2 separate regions of the Homo sapiens genome follow, and region 2 is linked to region 1. The links come from fine-mapping of genetic effects on gene expression. Tissue or cell type: whole blood. Region 1 holds a variant in brackets; the other region holds the start of a gene. All regions are shown on one strand. Distances are between the middles of the regions.

The links. PIP is the estimated chance that this variant, and not a neighbour inherited with it, causes the effect.
Region 2: it holds the start of AMPH, and the variant in region 1 is fine-mapped to the expression of AMPH in whole blood (TOPMed, PIP above 0.99).

The regions. Positions count from the first base shown.
Region 1 is chr7:38,393,440-38,395,939 of GRCh38, forward strand. It overlaps AMPH (amphiphysin), which reads right to left. Exons shown (of 21, transcript NM_001635.4): 18 at 566-775. Among named protein-coding and RNA genes, the nearest start is that of TRG-AS1, 53 kb to the left of the region's middle. RefSeq lists enhancers at 540-589, 1,097-1,266, 1,539-1,708, 1,630-1,799. The variant G/C (reference allele first, on the strand shown) is at 1,325.
Region 2 is chr7:38,629,947-38,632,578 of GRCh38, forward strand. AMPH (amphiphysin) reads right to left here and starts at 1,427. Exons shown (of 21, transcript NM_001635.4): 1 at 1,337-1,427. The coding sequence starts at 1,405.

The DNA of each region.
Region 1 (2,500 bases):
CAATGCTGCTCTGAGGCAGTGCCGAGCAGGGCCCCCTCCCGCCTCATGCACGGACCTAATGGCCCTGGTCCCTTTGTTTCCCTTCTCAAAGTGCCACCCAGTGGTGGGCTCTTGGTAAAAGGGGCCTGATGGTGAATTTGGGGCACTCTAATGATAATAATAACCACCAAACAGTAATAAGAATAATAAGATCTAAATACTATTGAGTTCTCCCTGGGCTGAGTGCTCACTTCATCACATTCTCTTTCTCCCGGCTCCATTCTCATCCTTTTCACTGTCCTGCTTCATTCCTTTCTCCACGTCACCCCAGTTTCCCATTCCCGTTTCCATGCTTAGGCCCAGTCAGCCACAGGCCCTGAGGGCCTATATGCAACATTGCAATGCTGATACTGAGCAGCTGGGATTAGTCTTTCTGAGAATCTGATAATAATGTTGTTTGGTGGAGTCACAAAATTGCTACAAACCTATTATACATCCAAAGAGTTATCACCATGAACCAACCAACAGAGCACCCAGCCCATGCTACTTCCCAGGAGCTCCCCTGGCTGCGACATGGGACACTCACCTGAGGCACTGTTGCTTCGAGCTCCTCTGCTTCAGGTTGGGCACTCTCTGCACCCTCAGTGGTTTCAGTTCCAATTTTGGCCTCCTCTAAACTTACTCCTTCCCCGGCAGGGACAGTGGCCTTCTCCGCCTCTGCTTCCTCTCCTGGGGCCCCCTCAGCTGCTGACACCAAGGTTCCAACAGCTGCATCAGCATCAGCTCCAGGTATGATCTGCAGGGCAGAAACCAGCAGGCCACGTCTGCATCTCCATGGGCCTCTGCCAGGAGTCAAACTCAAGCCTATTTCTAATCTCCCCTCTGTGGAGGCTATTCAGATTTGGAACATTCTTTGCACTCCCAGGATTTAGGTACAGCAGAATCTGCCATCTATTCATCAACACTCCGACTTCTCTTCTGCTGAGCTCCCAACAATTCTACACTCCTCAGCTTTCCCTGCTGTCAGGTGTAGCAAATGGGATTAGAATGGAAGTGACATACACCATTCCAAAGACATGGCTTTTAAGGTGTAGGTGGTCCTCTCCACAAGCTATTTCCATTTTTATTGGCTGGAAGCAACAAATGAGGCCTTAGGGGAGTGAAAGAAATAAAATTGAATCTCGGGACCTTAAACTTACCATGCCAAAGGAAAGCTAAGCTTGGGAACGGAGTCACACGAAAACCACCTTCCTTTTGTTCCCAAACACAGGGCTGTAATTTCACACACTTCCTTCATCTTATGTAACATGCAGAACTACAGAGCATGAGATGAAGGCATGAGTGA[G/C]TTTGTCCCCACTCCCTCTTTTCACATGTAAAATGTAGATTCACTGAGCGCTAATCAGAGCCTCACAAGAATGTGACACTTGCCTCATTGCCTAACCACCCTCTTTTTAAAAAAATTATTTCCTTCTTGCTTGCTATTTCCCCTTTAAATACTGAAGTTCTCAAAACTCTCTTCAGAAAAAGCACACGTCACAGATCCTCCTTTGACTCGTGTCTCTTTTTCCTGGGTGCATCCTTAACCTTGGCTAAATAAGCCTCTCCATGACTAAGACGTGCCTTGGTCACTTTTTGATTTACATGGCACATCTGGGTCACAGGATGGAAGTGGCCTGGGTCAGAGAGAAAAGCCATATCAGAAAAGCATCCTCATCACACAAAGTCAAAATTTAGAAAGAGTGCATTTTAGTATAAACTTTCAAATCTTTGTGAGGAAGGTTCCAGAAGCCAAATCACTTTCACAGGAAAAAAAAATACATAAGGAAGCTTTCTCAATGAAAACCCTCGAGAATGAAGGGGAAATCATTTTTGTAATCAAATATGCATGGTAATGCTCCAAATAGCTGTAGAGCCTGTTATAGGCAAAATGCCAAAATCATAGTTTAGGTCCAGTAAGGAGAAGTGAAATAGAAAAAAGTCAGAATTTTCTTTCTAAGGTAGAAACACAGAAGAAGAGTTTTAAGTACTATTTAAAATTTGAGATAATGAAATAAAGGAAATGCAATCAGAAATTTTAGTTTTGAACAAATGGGTTGGAGTCCAACTCTTTAAACAGGATTCTGACAACATCAGCTTGGCAGACTTGATTTGAGAGGTTCACGTGAGAAAGACTATGTTAGAAGAATCTCAGGTTGATCTTATATAATATATCCGGGACACATATTTCAAAAATGGCTCTTACTATCTGATGGGATTAGGATTAACTATTTTTTCTTTGTTGAATACATTCTATCCAGTTCAACATCTTAAGTTAGGAAGGCCCTAATATTGCAAATATTAACTTTCAAACTCAGAAAACAGAAAAGGACAATGAAGAGTACCTCCGAGTGAGCATCAGAAATCGGAGATGAAGAACATGAACCACACATCTACACTTATAACAAAGCAGTTTTAAAAACGTTTCTGCTGGCTCAAAGGTACAGGTAATAGTTTAAATAAAAATGCCTGTTACAGAATATAT
Region 2 (2,632 bases), 240 kb after region 1:
TGTGCATGTGTGGAGGGAGGGACTAGAGGCAGCCACCAAGCCTCTGGGCCTGGGGACAAAAGGGATCAGTGCCCCCTCTGCTCAGCAACTCATGGTCAGCCGGAACTGGGAGGCAGCCTGAGATTGAGATTGGGTCTGAAGAGGGAAATTCATTGCCATCCTGAGCAACATGGCAAATCTGACTTCCAGTAAAACAGGAAAACGCTAAACACCCCATATCCTAGGGACGGAAAATACTGCCACGTGAAAGAGAACACAGTTCAAGTGATACCAATCATGGGGCTCATTAGCCGGTGTTGATTTTCAAGTACAATGCTCAAGCTACAATATAAAGGAAATGTCCTTTGCTCAGGACACAAATGAAGACCTCAGGGCCGTCATATACAGCAGTCACCAGGGAAGCCAGGCAAGCCTGGTGCCTGGTACAACTCCCCTCCACCTGCTTTGGGCTGTGCTTGCTACGGACCTGGGTTTCATTCATGCACGTCTCTGGGGAAAAAAAATAAATTACTGTGCGCAATTTACTGAGGGACTTGCAAAACAACAGAGAACCCAATTTGTGCAATCTGGATTTTTTAAAATGCAATAAAAGGTCCTTCTTTGTGCAGAAATATGCAGAAAGGAACTATTAGGTTCAGGTCATATTTATTTTTGACCTTCTAAAGAAGGACACTGGAGTCAAAAGGGACACAAACATATAGACCAAAATTAAAAGTGTGTATATCTAGATCTCTGTTTTGAACTCCAGAACTCACCAGACAGCACTGTGTGATCACGATCCTACCCTATTGGTCCTGGGAGATTTTTGGTGGCTTCTCTGTTAAATCGTTCGTGTCTGCTGCACTTAAGTAGCCACAAAATCCCCCGCAAGAAGGAAGGCTGCTGCAATCTCCCGCCCCGATCTGCGGGCCGCGTCCCCGCGAGCTGCCTGCGGGCGCGCTGGGAGCCGGCCCGGGGAGATGCGAGCGCAGGGAGATGCGCTCTGCTCCGGGCGCAGCGGGCAAGCTGCCGCACCTCCTACTTCTGTTGCCTGGCTTGGGGCCAGGAGAGCGGCAACCCGGGGCCGGCTCCGGAGCTGGACATATCCGGCGTCTCCGGGGCCAGGGTCTGCGGGTCCCCGGCGCTGCGTCCTCCCGACCCGCTCCCCGCGGCGCCCGGGTCGCGCCTTGCGGCAGTCACCGAGCTGAGGGCAGGGCGTCCCAGCGTCCCTGGCCCCGGCCCCGCTCCGCAGCGCGCCGCACCCCGAGGCTCGGGCCCCGCACAGCTGCAGCCGGTGCCCTCCGGCCAAGCCCCCGCCTGGCGTCCCCGGCCCCAGCCCCGGCCGCCCGCCGCTGACCTTTTCCTGCGCGCGGTTGAGTCGCTTCTGGACGTTCTTGGCGAAGATGCCCGTCTTGATGTCGGCCATGGCTGCGGGTCCGGGGAGCTGCGAAGAGCAGAGCGCGCAGCGGGGCTGGCGGCGGCGCGGAGGAGCGGGAGGAGGAGCGGGAGGAGGAGGAGAGGGCCGAGCAAGGGAGGAGCGGGAGAAGCGGCGGGGAGCCGCGGAGCGCGGAGGGGTGAGGGCGGGGCGCGGCGGCGGGACCAGCTTAAAGCGACAGAGCGGGGGCGGGATGCGTCGGGACTGGCTGTGACATGGGGAGAAGGGGCGGGGGAAGAAAGAGAAAGAGGCCAAGAAAAAGAGAGGGAAAAGCCAGAAGCCAGATTGTCTCCTCGATGATAGAAGAGTTTCGAGAGGAGAAAGGGAACCAAGCCTAGCAGAAGTCCCTGGGCCCAGGGGCAGCTCGGGGGTTCTTTTAATGCAGTTTGTATTTGGGGAGAGTGAGGGGACCTGATTCTTTCCAGCAAAAAAAGAAATAGGGGAGACAAAAAAGGGAAGAACCCTAGGGATGTGGAAGCCAGCTGGATTGGAACTGCTCTGAAGTGGAGCTGATGGGGCTGGTCCCTTGCTGCTCCCAAAAGTTTCCAGCTAACAGAGGCCCCTCCATACACCCTGGGTGTTGCAGAAGAAGGTATGGAGGTCGCCCTACCCTCAGGAGGCTCACAGCCCAGTGAGGGGCCCTGGCTGGGAAACCAACGAAGTCAGAGCTGCAGGAGAGAGGCGTGTGGAGAGCAAAGCGGGGAGAGACCATCGCTGACACTTGTTTAAACTTTAAAACAAGAGTTAGCAGGGCGGGGAGGTCCGCGTTGAGAAAGGTCAGCTTCCGGAAGACAGGCGATGTGTTTTGGTCATCTCCAAAATTCCTGTGCTGGGCAGAAACCTTAGAATAGACTACTCTTCAAGAAATGGTGCATGGAACAGTCAAGTCCCTTATAGCTTCGCATCAACCATGGAAGACCCAGTCCCCCCTAACTTGTTGCTTCCTTGGAAACCTTTTGGCAACCTTAACAGGGACTCACCATCCCTATTATTCTTATTAATGCTTGGGAGAAGTACGAATAATAGGGATAAACCTGCCCTACACCTAGAGCTCTTGTTGGCTCTGACCAGTGGTCAAACTATTCATATTCCATTCTCACTGAGAGTGTGAGGAGAAGAAGTCAGGTGGTGCCCTGCAAACAGAGGTCAGAAGTGGTCACTCACAGTGAATCCTATGAGTCCAGGTGAGCATCCTACTGTACCTCTGGGGGAAACTGT